Regions from separate parts of the Homo sapiens genome. Here region 2 is linked to region 1. Evidence: fine-mapped expression QTL. Tissue or cell type: tibial artery. Region 1 holds a variant in brackets; the other region holds the start of a gene. All regions are shown on one strand. Distances are between the middles of the regions.

Evidence for each region. PIP is the estimated chance that this variant, and not a neighbour inherited with it, causes the effect.
Region 2: ANKEF1 starts here. The variant in region 1 is fine-mapped to the expression of ANKEF1 in tibial artery (GTEx, PIP above 0.99). The same link has a PIP of 0.9 or more in aorta and coronary artery.

The regions. Positions count from the first base shown.
Region 1 is chr20:10,063,148-10,071,255 of GRCh38, reverse strand. The region is part of intron 3 of SNAP25-AS1 (SNAP25 antisense RNA 1); the gene reads left to right. Among named protein-coding and RNA genes, the nearest start is that of ANKEF1, 32 kb to the right of the region's middle. The variant T/A (reference allele first, on the strand shown) is at 3,940.
Region 2 is chr20:10,030,194-10,038,301 of GRCh38, reverse strand. It overlaps ANKEF1 (ankyrin repeat and EF-hand domain containing 1), which reads right to left and starts at 3,315. Exons shown (of 11, transcript NM_022096.6): 1 at 2,969-3,315; 2 at 2,660-2,723; 3 at 1-44. All of the region lies in intron 3 of SNAP25-AS1 (SNAP25 antisense RNA 1), which reads left to right. RefSeq lists a silencer at 2,975-3,524.

The DNA.
Region 1 (8,108 bases):
GTTTTCAGCCATTATGAGTTTACTTTTGTGAGCACAGTAATGTTCAGTTCTTGGAGGTTCTTGCAGATCACCTATTATCATAAACCAAAAATATGATTTACAAACGATGGCCAATAATTTGCATGTATAATTAAATGTCAGGGTAAATATTTCTAACGGTAACTTGAATCATTCAATTCTGGGCTTGAAAATTAAATCCTGAAAGCTACGCAAATGCTTGGGCAGAGAAATCCGGTAATGCTTACTTGAAATATAGAAACCTATATTTAGTACTTCATAGTGTGCCAGATAGTATAACAATTGCCTAGTGTCTATTATCCCATTAAGTTCTGATATGGTATGGATCTGTGTCCCCACCCAAATCTCATGTCAAATCATGCATGTCCCCACCCAAATCACCATGTCCCCAGTGTTGGAGAAGGGGCCTGGTGGGAGGTGAGTGGATCATGGGGACAAAGTTATCGTGAATGGTTTAGCATCGTCCGCTGCTTGATACTGTATAGTGAGTGAATTCTCATGAGAGCTGGTTGTTTAAAAGTGTGTGGCACCTCCCCACCCTCTCTCTTCTTCCTACTCTGGCCGTGAAGTGCCTCGCTGCCCCTTTGCCTTCTGCCATAATTGGAAGCTTTCTGAAGTCTCCCCTGAGCCAGAAGTTGCTATGCTTCCTGTATAGCCTGCAGAACTGTGAGCCAATTAAACCTCTTTTGTTTATAAATTACCCAGTCTCAGGTATTTTTAATAGCAGTGTAAGAATGGATGAATACAAGTTCTAATCACAAACCTATGAAGTAAGTCTGTTAGTGAGGCTGGTCAATAACCTAAAGTCCCAGTTGCTTATAACCCACCATGTCCATTGATGGGCAACTCTGCATCCTACTCCATATTTCCTAGGCTGACAGAGCGGCCGGCAGCAGAGGGGAGGATTGCTCAGAGAGCCTCACACTTGCAATCAAAAGCTCCAGCCTGGAAATGGCAAACCTCACTTCCATGCATAGCTCATTCGTCAGAACTAGTCACCTGACACCACCTAACTACAAGGGAATGGGGCAGAGAGTATAATCCTACCGTGTGTCCAAAGTGGAGAGAGCAGGAAATATTTGGTGAATAGTGCTAATCACTACTGTAGTGTGTCCCTATTTTATACATGAGAAAACAGAATCTGAGAGGTCAAACAACTTGCCAAGTCACAAAGCTAGTAAGCAGAAGAGCTAAGATGCTGTTAAAGAACAAAGCATGGATTTAACAAGTTTTTACAGCAAATTCTAAGCCTACTAATTCTGTGTCACTTAGAAAGACACAGGAAAATTAGAGATTGAACAGAGACTAGCAGATGTCTCTTGATCTCACATTTGTGAAATCTGAAATCCTTTGGCTATACTTCCAGCTGCCTACTTGAAAAGCTAGAGACTAAAAATATTGACTTTCTATTATCAGAGCTGAGTCCTTCATAAAATTGTTATGGCCCTAGGAGTTCTTGAGGATAATTTATGGATGATACAGAGCAATGTGACTTGTAATCACTTGGGAGATGCTATCAGCAATGTGAAAACCAATTGAACTTGGAAAGAAATCCACACTCCTTACTCTTCCCTGCGAGTTCCTCGATATCTGGCCCCGTCCTCTTCGTCAACCTTGTCCTAAGCTGGCTTCCCCTTGCTACCACCATCTTTGTGCAAGCTTTTCTGGTTTTCTTCCTGCTCTTCACCAAGCCAGGCTCTTTCTGGCCTCAGAGTTGTGGCAGGTATTTCCCCCTCATGTGTAGATTGCCTCCCCACGCCACTATAGAGTATCCCTTTTGAAAATTATGTGGAAATTTTTATATAATGTTTTATATTTAATTTTTGTGGATATATGGTAGTTGCATCATGGGGTACATGAGATGTTTAGATACAGGTATGCAATGTGTAATCACATCATGGAAAATGGGCTATCCATCACCCCAAGCGTCTGTCTTTTCTGGTATAAACAATCCAATTACAGTTATTTTTAAATTTACAATTAAATTACTATTGACTACAGTCACCCTATTGTGCTATCAAATACCAGGCCTTATTCATTCATTCTAATTATTGTTCGTACTCATTAACCTTTTCTACCCTGTCTCCCATTTCCCCACTACCCTTCCCAGCCTCTGGTAACCATCCTTCTACTCTCTATCTCCTTGGGTTCCATTGTTTTGATTTTTAGATCGTACAAATAGGTGACAACATGCAATGTTTGTCTTTTCTTGCCTGGCTTATTTCTCTTAATATAATGACCTCCAGTTCCACCCATGTTGCTGCAAATGACAGGGTCTCATTCTTTTTTATGGCTGAATAGTACTCCATTGTGTATAAGTACCACATTTTCTTTATCCATTCATCTCTTGATGGACACTTAGGTTGCTTCTGAATCTTGGCTATTGTGAACAGAGCTGCAACAAACATGGAAGTGCAGATATCCCTTCAATATATTGATTTCCTTTACTTTGGGTATATACCCAGCAGTGGGCTTGCTAGATCATATGGTAGCTATTTTTTTAGTTTCTTGAGGAACCTCCAAACTGTTCTCCATAGTTCATATTGAAATTTAACTGTCAATATAGTTCTATCAGGCAGTGGGGCTTTTAAGAGGTTAGTCATGAGGGCTCTGTCCTTATGAATGGGTTAATGCTGTTATCTTGGCAGTAGGCTAGTTATCTTGGGAGTTTGGCCTACTTTTTCTCTCTGTCTCACTTGCTTGTTTGCCCTTCCACCATGTTATGGTGCAACAAGAAGGCTCTCACCAGATGCAGCCCCTTGACCTTGGACTTCCCAGTCTCCAGAACTATGAACCAAATAAATGTCTATTGTTTATAAATTACACAGTTTGTGGTATTCTGTTATAGTAGCAGAAAACAGGCTAAAACACCTTTCCTCCCCTTAATCTGACAACTTCTACTCATTTTTTAGGTCTCATAGTAGACATTTCTTCAGAGAGGCACTCCCTGACTCTCAAACTAAAACTCCACCCAGTACTTTTCCATGGTAACATGCATCCCAATTTATAATAATATAGCTGTGTTTATTTAATTGCTATCTCCCTATTATGGTGGCAGGAACCAAGGGAGCAGTGAGTGCTGCGTGTAGCATTATACACCAGTGCCAAAGAGGCCAACTGGAAAATAGTAGATCCTTAGTATTTATTGAATGAAATGAATAAATGAATGACTTTTAGTCTTTAAGTAAGGATTTCAAGTGAGTTCCTAAAGTCTGAATTTGTGTTTCTCTTCTTTTAAGCTTTATCAATAATTCCATGTTAGTAATAATGAAGTGGAGACGGAAAAACCAGAAACAACCAGAAAAATTTAGATAAAAATGAAAACATTTATCCTCTCTTTTCTGGTTTTTGTTTTGTTTTCCAAAAGCCCAAAAAGAGTTAACATCTTTGGACTATTGATTTTTAGAATGAAGTATAAAGGATTTAAGAACATTTTGCTGCATTGGAGATGATTTTTACAAGTAGAAAGGATAATATAGAAAACCGCCAAGCGAATTACTGCACTTGAATCGATACATATGTTTTCTTTTTTCCTGTCAGACATTTCTTACCAAACGGTTTAAATAATATCATCTGTTCTTGTTTTTTGTGCATTCCTACTCACACATATCAAATGAAGAAAAGCCAAAGGCTTTATGAAGCACTGGAAAGAATTTTGTTGCCAACCAGTTCATGCTACTGCAATTCTGTGGGTCCATGACACAGAGGAAAATATAAGGCTATGTACTGATTTACATCACAGAACACATGGTACATCCAGGAATGAGCACCACAAGGGTAATTTTAATGCTGCAGAACACATTTATCTGCTGATATATGGTCTAGGAATACGCTGCTTTTATTCTGCCAATTCTGACTCCCACTATTCCCTCTAAAAATGGAAAAAACTCTTGCAAGGTCATTTGGAAAGAATGTTTAAAA[T/A]TACTTTTTCTTTGCTTATTTGCAATCCCTTCACTTCTTAAGAATGATTGGCAGTGTTTATGTATCCTGAAGCCTGGGGCAGAGTTAAGATTCAAACAGGAGACTAATGGAGTAAAGGAGTCCCTCTCCTAGTGGGCAGAAATTATAAGCAGCCATTTAGGTTACTTATACACCTGGGATAGCTACAAACAGCTATGTTCCCAGTGGCAAAAGGAAAGGCTAATACAGTCCAGCAGAAAAAAAATAGAAACCATTCTAAAGAACAGAGGCAGGAACTCAGGAGTACAATAGTCAGGGATGAATTAGTATAAGATAAACTCTCCACATAAAGAGGCACTGAGAAAGTACATACGTGATTTTCAGTTGTGCACAAATTTTAAAATAATTCAAGTTTATATTATGTTATAATCCCATCAATGTGGCCAGAAAATATGTGGTATATTTTGGAATGTTCAGTCATGACAGTTATGGTGTCAAATAATTAAATATTATTCAAATAATTGCACAGGTGAAGATATAGTTGCAACTGCGGTAAGTGCCGTGAAGGAAGGTGCATTGTGATCTATGAATGTATATAGGAAGAGAATTTAACTTCGTGAGGAAGGTGAGGAAGTCTGCCCTAACAAAGAGATGATTTCTCTGAGATGAAAAAGGAATGGAAAATTAAGCAGATGAGGTATTGGGGAAGAGGAGGGAGAATGAATTCCTGGACAAGGAGGATACAGTTTATGCAAAAACTTAATGGAAGGTGGGAGCATGTACATAAAATAAAATAACAGACTGTCTACAGCAGAGTGTTTAAAGGCCTGATCTGGGGGAGGAGTAAGTATGCTCAGACCGCTCAGGTGATCATAGGCCATGTTCACATACATTTTCTTATATTATTAAGAAAATCAGTAATTTTGAAAGTATTTTAATTAGATGGTAGGTAGAGTACTGAAGTAATCACTTTTCATCCTTGAAAAGACTTGTCTGGCATCAATGTATAGATAGACTGCAGGACAGAAGGAGATAAAAGAACAGATCAGAATATTTCTTACAGTTTTCTGGGTAAGATGATAAGGTAGACTACGGCGGTAAGGGTGGAGATAGTAGGAGGAAGAGTCACAAGAATTTATGAGATTAAATGGAGTTGAATTGGGGTGGGTGGGTGCTTGGGGAAGCAAGTCATGATGATATCTGGGAGTTTGGCTTTCATAGCAGAATGTTGGTGGTTCCATTACTGAACTAGAAAACACTCGAAGTAAACTAGACTTAAGGATGGGCAGTAGAGGTCTAAAGTTTGATTTGGGAATTGTTGAGTTTCAGGAGCGTTTGTAAATTCAAGAACTGATGTCAAGTATAATTAGATATGTTTCTGTAGGCTTAGATGAAATAACTACGCTTAAGACACAAATGTGGGAGTCATTCCAAGGAGAGAGTGCAAATGAGCTTGCCTAGGGAGAGCTCGTAGTGTGAGATGAAGGTTTGAAACTGAGTCTTGAGAAATTCCGACATTTAATGGTCAGGCGGAGGTTGTAGTAGCCACTTTTTTGGTTTGTTTTCTTCTCCATCTTTCTCTTCTTTCTTTATTCCTTTCTTTTCTTCCCCTCTCTTTTTTCTTCTTTTTCTTTCTTCCTTCCTGTCTCCTTTTTCCTTCCTCCCTTCATTTTTCTTCCTTCCTTCCTTTCTTTCTCTCTCTTTCTCTTTCTCTTTCTCTCTTTCCTTCTCTTTCTTTCTCTTTCCTTCTCTTTCTCTTTCTCTCTTTCCTCTTTCTTTCTCTTTCTCTTTCTTTCTCTTTCTTTCTTTCTTTTTTTTCTTTCCTTTTCCCCTTCCTCTTCCCTTCCCTTTTCTTTCTGCCTTTCCAGCATCCCTAACTCTTTTTTTGGGGAAGAATAATCCCTACTTTTTCTTGGGAGCCCACACCTATACAAGTAGCAGTCTGGTGTTTTGGGTAGAGTGACTCATTCCCTGAGTCATGGGCTGACAAAATGATCTGGCCAATCAGAATCTTGTGTCCTGTTGTATAATGACTGGTGTGGAGAAAGACCCTTGACTCAAGCCTGACCATTGAGAGTGCGATCAGGGTTTTCACAGGACCAGCTGGGAAAGAGTACCTCATTTCACTTGGAGTTCTAGGATGTAACCCTGGAGCTTCTGGTGGACATCTTTGCTACATTCTAGCTAAGGTTGGAGCTCACACAGACTAAAGCCAAGTAGAGAGAGCAAGGGAGCCAGACAGTGAGAATGTCAGCAAGCAAGGAAGAGAGAAATGGTTTTCAGGGAAGATGTTTTGCCTCCAGTCTTGCTCAATCCACCCCTTGAAATTCTGTATTAAGAATTCTCTTTTTCTAAGTCTTAATAATTCTCTTGTTATTGTCTGCTGGTGTTGAGAGTCCTGATGCAAAAAGCATGGCTACAAAGGATATTGAGAAGCACCAGGAAACTGTGGTGTTGCTAAAGTCAAGAAAATTTCTAGGACAAGGGACGAATCAGCAGAATCAAATGGAAATCCATCACTTTCCAAATCCATATGGTTGTCTTACAAATCTCTCCAGGATGTGGCTTTGGCCTCTTTTCCCTGACCATTTTTTATTTATTTCTTGTCACATTGCTTTTATTTCACTTGCTGGAATGGGTCTGCACTGCAAAATGCTGCTGCTTCTACTCAATTCCTCTCTTCCCTCTGGGTCAACTTAATTCCTCACTCATTCTTTAGAGTTCAGCTAAAATACCATTTCATTAGTGAAAATTTCCCCTATTCTGTAGCACCACTATAAGTTCATATGTTGTATAAGGTAGCGTTACCTTGCAGCTATCCTGGGGTAGCCCTCTGTTTGTCTCCTGGGATGCTTGAAGTCTGGTCAAGGTAAGAATGAAATGTGCTACTGAGGACTTTATAATGTGCAATGTGCTATTTAAAGCTCGAAATTCCCCTGGAGGCAGCCTGTATTAGCTTGTCTACATTGTTTAGGACTGTATAGACTGATAGTTTGTACCTGGTCTAACAGGGTATACAGCCTGGGTTTAGCTACATGGCTGGTGGGTATGAAAGACCCCTCAATAAATTATATACCTGGACTCACACTTACGGTGATCGTATATAATCTGAAGATAAAATGTGTCCTGTACCGAGTGATTAAAATGGACCCTGGGGGGCTGTGCCTGGAAGCCCTAGACCCCTCTGTGATCATCTGTGCTCTGTGTCCTAATGTATCCTTCACCTGTATTAAAACCTTACTCAAATACACACTGTGAAATCTTGTGAGTCTTTTGATAATCTTCAATTATTCAATCTTGTGCAATCATCTCATAAGTATTTTAGGATTATTCTATGAAAATATGCTTTTCCTACGAAACTATAAACTCCATGAGGGCAGGGGCTATTCCTGGTTTTGCATTCCATTTTATCCAGACATGCCATTGTGCTTGATACGTGATTAATCAGGATCCACATGGGAAAGCAGAAACAACTCTGAGTTCCTACAGAATGGAAGTTAATGGGAGGATTTGGTTGCACAAGCAATAGAAGAGGCTGAGGAAACAACCAGAGCACAGTGAGGCAGCCCTGAGACTAACAACAAAAGAAGCTGGTACCACCCTTGGAGGCTTAAGGGACAGAGGGAGTGGGTAGTACTACCAGAGCCTAGGGGCCAGGGTCACATGAGGGAGGCTAGGACCACAGCAGGATACACAGCTCCCCACACAGTGGGGAGTGGAGTCATGGGGGAGACAGACACAGCTGTTGACGGGGATGCCGACAAAGGCAAAGATGGAAAGGGGGAACTACCTGGCTTTTCCTCTCCTCCCTCTCTCATCTTTTGTTGTCTCCTGTTGTCTGGATCCTACTGGAAGCCAAATAATGCAGAAACCTGGGACATGCAAACTGGATGAATTGCTCTCCTGTCATGCACCATGAAGAGAGCAAGGAACAGACCTAGGATTTTCATTATCGGTGCTCAATAAATATATGCTGAATGAATAAAACCAAATTGTATGTAGAACAAGGGCTGCTGATAGATTCAGCATTCTGGCAGTAGCAACCTTGGACATCATGAAAAGTCTCAATCTCTAACTGAGACGCATGTGTTATATGGACCAGAGGTCTGCAGAGTCTGAACACACAAGGTCTGCCTAGGTACTCTCATTCCATGATTTTCTATTGCTGATCAATTCTCCTTCTGGCTGAC
Region 2 (8,108 bases), 33 kb after region 1:
GCTTGACCAGCTCCTTGAAAATGCTTTCTGGACCAAAACTAAAGCTGAAGCAACAAAAAAGAAAAATAACTCAAAGTTAATTTTATCATCTTCATTTTGATTAAATAACAATATTTTGGAACTTCCTTAAGAACAGAGATTGTTTTTTAAGAAATGTTCAGAAAGTAGGATTTATACATAAATATCAAAAATATTGAGTGGGCATAAAGTTAAAACAGTTCAAACAAATCTTCCATCATAATTAAAAATAGTTTGCCAGGTGGTTTTCTTATTATCCATTTAACCTTCCCTCCTCATCACACTTTACCATTTTACCATGAAGAAGCTGAGGTTAACTAAATTGCCATGGTAAGGGTTTGAGTTCCCACCATCTATCTACATGGTTTCACACCAGCAAAATAGAGAGATCATGCAGGTTTTAATAGTTTTAAGGTGTTATAAAAACATATAATTTTGAGGTGTTCATTATAAACAAATCTACTGGGCTCTGTAACATATCAGAGATGTGATGAGTGATTCCTATGTCATCTTAAGTGGAAAAGATGTAGTTAAATGGCTGCAAGGAAACTGCAAATCTTCATAAACAATCTCCCTGTTAAATTGTGATGGGCATTCTAGTATGTAATTTTACCTCCTTGTACGGAAAATCTTTTGGATTGAGTAGCAGGCCATGCTAGGTATGACCAGTTGTTTCTTCATTTCTTATGAGAAAAGAACTCCATTATCACATAGGGAATCCTATCCGGGTCGTTTGGATGGGGCTGTCCCTTCTGTCCCCTGCCAGAGGAAAGCGTCTGTGGCCTAGGCTTGGCCCATTTGAGGGAACCATCCCTTTCCAGGTACACTGAAGCTCAAGCATATGTGCATAAAAGACATCAACCAATCAGCAGCCCATCATCCAGAACTATGAGGGAAGACTATTCTGCTGAAGTTGTTAAGCAGTATGGTGTGGGGCTGGGGCGCAGGTAGCTCTCTTGGGTGCCACAGAGAGAGTCCATGCTTGGAGGATGGAGAGAGACTGAGATTGATGGCATTAGTTGCAACATGGATTCCATGGTGCCAGAAGCCATCTACCACTTTGTGGGTAAATACATCTTCTCCCCCGTCACCTTATTTTGGTATAAGCTAGTTAGCTAAGTTTCCAACATTTGCAATGAAAAGATTCCATCTTACTACAAAAGTTGAAACTATGCACCATTTTTCTCCATCGCAAGCCTGCTCCCTCACCTACATTCTCTACGGCAGTGAGCTCTCTCTCCTTTAAATGTGTCTCTCTAGGCACCACAACATCTCCATCGCCTGCTTCCATCCAACACCAATGCCCCCTCCTGCTCAGGCTCCTTTGCTGACTCCCCATTTCAAGAAGCCTATGTTGGGTGCCCAGGGCTAGGTCCTCAAGACTCTTTTCTGTCCTCACACACTCCCCTGGTGTCTCGCCCTATCCCATGACCCTCGACCCTCAGCCCAACTCTCACTCTGTCACCCAGGCTGGAGTGTAGTGGCACAATCTCGGCTCACTGCAACCTCCACCTCCTGGGTTCAAGCGATTCTCCTGCCTCAGCCTCCCGAGTAGCTGGGATTACAGGTGCCCACCACCACACCTGGCTAATTTTTGTATTTTTAGTAAAGACAGGGTTTCACCATGTTGGCCAGGCTGATCTTGAACTCTTGACCTCAGGTGATCCACCCGCCTCAGCCTCCCAAAGTGTTGGGACTACAGGCGTGAGCCACCGGGCCAGGCCTCCTTTGCCTTTTAATCTGTTTATAACATGCGGTGGACTAGGGAACCAACTGAGGCTGCCTCAGAGTCATCCACTTGGACTTTGCTGCACGGCTTGGTGACACTCACCTTAGCTGCTATTTATGGCTTGTTTTATTATTATCGGCCATATTCCGATTAGGTGCGGTGTCATCATACTGCATATGTATATGTGTCATCTATGGAATAGGGCAAGATGCTCCTACATAGGTAATGATTAGACTGAATCAATGCCACTTGATTTGTGAAAATAAGGATTTCCCAATCAGGGACTTCAATGTTGCCTCTGTTAGCACCCATCTCTAACGGAGAATTAATTAGCAGCTACAGTGATGAATTCAGTAGGTCCATGGGTCGGTTTCCTGTGGACTGCCTCCCTCCCAGCTAAAGCCCTGAAGTGCTGGGGAGAGGGCAGCACCCTGTATAGTGTCCTTCACAATCAACTGCTAAGACTGACCAAGAGCTCACCCCACTGCAGGAAATCACACAAGTGTAGCCCTTGGGTCCTGGGTTCCTTGTAAATTGAGCAGCATATAGGATCCTCCACATACAAGCACACCTGTACTTTTCCCCAGCATGACCCTGGGCCACCTTAGTCACATCTAACCATCTACCAAGGTAGTGGAATAGAGCAGAATGTCTTGACTTGAGGTCCATGTTCGGGGTCTGAATACTCGGAAATTACATGAAAATCTGTGGGAATCTGTGTGTGTTCAGGTCATTTAACTCTCAAAGGGGGGCTGTGCGACAAGGAAGGATCATTAGAAAGAGGAATGGAGGAAGACAAGCTTGGTACAGTGGAATGTAGGGTTTGAGGTGGGGAAATCCGTTGTGATCCTCCCTTCCCTGTATCATTATTTACACAAACTAGTTGGATATAAATATGGATATGCTACCTACCTAGTTTTTACCTCAGTTTCTGCATCTGTGAACTGGCAATAGCAATGGTGCCCACTTCATGGGACTGTGTGAAAAGGAAATGAGATATGATCCTTGTAAAACATTTAGCAAAGTCCTTCAATATAGGCTCCTTATGAATACACCAAACTTTTGCGGGTTTCAGCTCACCCACAAGTGTAAGCGATAGTTTACATGTTGGGGGTTCTCTACTGTGCTTTCCACTTTTTAGTCTCCAGAAAAATCTGGAGAAGAGAGGAGTGGAGGGGGTAGAGATGTAACGTCAAAGGAAAAGCCATGTGTCATGCTCACCTCTTAGTCTTCCGGGCGATCAGAAGCCAGGGATCTCTGGGCACCTATGTGCCTGGGCCTGCTGGGGCGACCGGGGAGGCCCCTGCTCTCGTCCTCTGACGCTCAGCGCTGGCCCAGCCGCGACCTTGGGCTCCCGGAGCCCGGCGGAGGCGCCCAGGCGTGAATGATGTCCCTTGGGTAGGGCTGGTGAGCTGGCGCGCGGGACAGCAGGGCTGGGTGTATGTGTCCATGGGCCCCGGGTCCCCGGAAGGCGAGCGCGCGGGCAGGTGAGCGCAGGGGGCGGGGTGGAAGCCGGAGGGACCGGGCTGATTGTGAGCTTCCGCCACGCAGGGCGCGGCTGCCGGGGCAACCGCAGCGTGCGCGGTGGGGCGGTGCTCGCCTCCGCCTCCGCCTCCGCCTCCGCCTCCGCCTCCGCCTCCGCCTCCGCCTCCGCCCCCGCCCCCGCCTCCGCCTCCGCCCCTCGCGCCTGGCTTCGACGCCAGGTGGCCGGCCTGGGCGGGATGGGGTAGCTGCGCTGGGTGTTCCAGGGCGGAGCGCAGAATGCTGCTGTCTTGAGGATTCCGCCCTTCTCTCATTCTCTTCTCCCACCTCCTGCCCTGGGTCAGAACGTAATTTAGTTATAAAATTAAAGCTGCATATGGCAATTAAAAAATGAAGTAAAATATACAATAAATATTTAGTTTACAAAGTACAATTAAATGAAAAATACAATAAATTACACAATAAAGCGAAAGTGAACCTACTCTCAACTGCCACAGATTCTTGCAAATCTTCCCAGAAATTTTCTTTCCATACTCTAGGATGCATATATGCTTAAAAAATATTTATACACAAATGGAAGCAAATATGGAGATCACTTTATTTCAGGGCCTACAAATGCACCATAACACCCCTCTCTCTCCCTCCACACATGCTTTTTGGCGGAAAATTCTGAAAGCTTTGGTTTGATTATGTGAATGTAAAACATATATATGTGTGTCTATATATATATGCTTTTTAATGCAGTATGTAATTGCTTCCAATTAAAAACAGTAATTCCTTACACCAGCCTACCCTATTCTACTCAGAGACTGTTTAAAAATGTTAAGAGCGAAGACATGGAATCAACCTAAGTGCTCATCAATGATAGACTGGCTAAAGATAATGCGGTACATATACACCATGGAATACTATGCAACCATATAAAGGAACAAAATTATGTCTTTTGCAGGAATATGGAGCTGGAGGCAATTATCCTTGGCAAGCTAACGCAGAAACAGAAAACCCAATACTGCATGTTCTCACTTATGAGTGAGAGCTAAGTGATGAGAACACATGGACACATAGAGGGGAACAGCACACACTGGGGCCTATTGGAGGGTAGAAGGTGGAGAGTGGGAGGAGGGAGAGGATCAAGAGAAATAACTAATGGGTACTAATCTTAATACCTGGGTGAGAAAATAATTTGTGCAACAAAACCACATGACACAAGTTTACCTATATAACAAATCTGCACATGTACCCCTGAACTTAAACGTCAAATAAAAAATAATAAAAATGTTATTAAGGACTATTTCATGCACACCAAAATATACTGTATGATATATGGAAAGTACATACCATACCATACCATAGCTAAAGAAATACCATAGCTAAAGAAAAAGAAAGCTAGGAAAAATAAAGGAAAAAGGAAAAGGAAAAAAAAGTCTGCCTCTACTGCTGTACTTATATGTATTTCTTCCCAACACTGCATCCTCCTCTTCCTGTTCCCAGAGATAATACCTGTTCTGAATTTTACATTTATCATCCCAGCCTCTTAAAAATGCATTGCTACATTGAATGCCTCCCTAAATAATGCATGTTTAATATTGCATATTTTGAGAATTTATAAAAATGTGGTAGAATGTTGTGTATTGTTTTGATGACTTTTTTCCTTTCAACGTCTTGTTTTTGAAATGTATCTTTGTTGGTATGTTTAATTGGAGTTCCTTTATCTAAACAGCTGTAGGCTATTCCATTATATTACCATTCCACACCCCTTTCAAATCAATTCCACTATTGATAGACATTTGGGATGTTTCCAGAATTTGCTACTAAAAGCAATACTACTAAGATCATGTTTATAAATGTCTTTGGACGCACACGTTCAAGAGTTTCACTAGAGTATATGTCTAGGAGTTAAATTTCTGGGTCATAGGTTATTTATAACATCAAGATAAAGACAACTTGTTTTCCCGACATATACAGCAATTTAGACTCCCATCAGCAGTGTGTATCTTAGCCAAAACTTGGTTTTGTCACACAAAAAACTTTCTGCCAATCTTGGTATCAATGCTCTTTTATAATTTACTTTACGTGACCTGATTACTAATTATTAATCTGTAAGTTTGATTCCTTAGAGATATTTGAGTGTAAATTTATTGTCAAACTGTGTCCAAAATTGGTGGGTTCTTGGTCTCACTGACTTCAAGAATGAAGCCAGGGACCCTCGCGGTGAGTGTTACAGCTCTTAATGTGGCGCATCTGGAGTTTGTTCCTTCTGATGTTCGGATGTGTTCGGAGTTTCTTCCTTCTGGTGGGTTCGTGGTCTCGCTGGCTCAGGAGTGAAGCTGCAGACCTTCACGGTGAGTGTTACAGCTCTTAAGGCGGCGCTTCTGGAGTTGTTGGTTCCTCCTGGTGGGCTCGTGGTCTCGCTGGCTTCAGGAGTGAAGCTGCAGACCTTCGCAGTGAGTGTTACAGCTCATAAAAGCAGTGTGGACCCCAAGAGTGAGCAGCAGCAAGATTTATTGCAAACAGTGAAAGAACAAACCTTCCACAGTGTGGAAGGGAACCCAAGCGGGTTGCCACTGCTGGCTCAGGCAGCCTGCTTTTATGCTCTTATCTGGCCCCACCCACATCCTGCTGATTGGTAGAGCCGAGTCCTCTGTTTTGACAGGGCGCTGATTGGTGCGTTTACAATCCCTGAGCTACACCCAAAGGTTCTCCATGTCCCCACCAGATTAGCTGGCTACAGAGTGTGGACACAAAGGTTCTCCAAAGCCCCACCAGAGTAGCTAGATACAGAGTGTGGCTTGGTGCGTTCACAAACACTAAGCTAGACACAGGGTGCTGATTGGTGTGTTTACAAACCTTGAGCTAGATACGGAGTGCCGATTGGTGTATTTACAATCCCTGAGCTAGACATAAAGGTTCTCCACGTCCCCACCAGACTCAGGAGCCCAGCTGGCTTCCCCCAGTGAATCCCGCACGAGAGCTGCAGGTGGAGCTGCCTGCCAGTCCCGCGCCGTGCGCCCGCACTCCTCAGCTCTTGGGTGGTCGATGGGACTGGGCGCCGTGGAGCAGGGGGTGGTGCTCATCGGGGAGGCTCGGGCGCACGGGAGCCCATGGAGGGGGTGGGAGCTCAGGCATGGCGGGCTGCAGGTCCCGAGCACCCCCCGCGCGAAGGCAGCTAAGGCCCGGTGAGAAATTGAGCGCAGCGCCTGTGAGCTGGCACTGCTGGGGGACGGAGTACACCCTCCGCAGCTGCTGGCCCGGGTGCTAAGCCTCTCATTGCCTGGGGCTGGAAGGGCTGGCCGGCTGCTCCGAGTGCGGGGCCCGCCAAGCCCACGCCCACCCAGAACTCCAGCTGGCCCGCAAACGCCGTGCGCAGCCCCGGTTGCCGCTCGCGCCTCTCCCTCCACACCTCCCTGCAAGCTGAGGGAGCCGGCTCCGGCCTTGGCCAGCCCAGAAAGGGGCTCCCACAGTGCAGTGGTGGGCTGAAGGGCTCCTCAAGTGCCGCCAAAGTGGGAGCCCAGGCAGAGGAGGCGCCTGGAGCCAGCGAGGGCTGTGAGGACTGCCAGCACGCTGTCACCTCTCAAAGCTACCCTATTCACTCTCAACTACTTACCACATAACTCTCAGATTATTTTAACAGAACCAGGGCACCGTTTCTTGAACTACTGTTTCTCAGTGTAGGCAAAGCCTCACATTTGAGTTTTTTTTGACATAATGGAGCCTAGAAGTCACTCAGGTTCCTTGGGTCTCAGTTGTAAAATCAGAATAGTATGAACTGCCCTCACAAGCCGTAAAAGAAGTATGCATAACAATGACATAAGCTCCATCTTGGCTCTGTGGTTGATTCTTGGGGAATACTTCTGTGGATAAACAGTTCCAACTATGTATTATAGGTCATCAATAGATCTTTCCAATGATAATCTTCCCCATGTTTGGAGACAAAGTTGGTATCAGTAACAACCTTGTTTCTGTTCTGGAGAAAGTTCCTGAAATTATTTGAGAATCTGGTAGATTTTGGAGGAAACACATCTAGAAGACTGAAAGGAGTAGATTAATAATGTGTGAACTCTGCTTGGGTCATATCAGAACTACTGGCGCAAATATTTTGAATAGAAGTTGGGTAAGCATTTGCTGTTTGATTGAGACCTTGGAGATAAGCATGTGGTCCGATTCACTCTCCTAACTTTGTTTTAGGGAATTTTTTTTTTTTTTCCCTGAAGGGGTACTGAGTTTCATGAAATAATCTTTGATTTTATAATCAGGTAACTGAATAGTAGAACAATAGATAAACACATTTAATTTCAATCTTTTTAACCTAGGGAGGCTACTAAAGTCGTTATTGCTGAACTATTTAAATAACAGCTTCATGCTAATGAGGGGACAGGCAGGGCATGGGTAAAGTTTTGGAAATCCCAGATTCATAATTAAACACAACCTTTCTCCTCTTTCACCAGAGGAGAACTGAGAACACTGCAGAGCCTTCTTAACTTGAACTTTATCATTTTTGCCCTGAGCTATCTGGCAGTAGAGTTGTCAGAATTTGGACAACACAAAGGAAAAATGGGAGGAAGGGGTATTAAATATTCCTACTGCTCAAAACATAGCTAGTTGGGAGGTGACAGAAAAGTACACGTTGTTCTTGCCAATGACTTACGATACAAACTGATACACTGGCTAAATTCTCTAATAACCTAACTTGTGCTTCTATCTTTGTCTGGTATTAAACCAATTTTTATCTTTAAATTACAACTATTCAAAGGGCTTGCAAATTTAATACTTCTTACATAGTCCTAGGCATTCTGCAAAATGCTTGGCAAATTAAATGTGATTCTATTGAATAACCTCACATATTTTTATAAAAATTTTTCTTAAAATCCAATAAGAAACT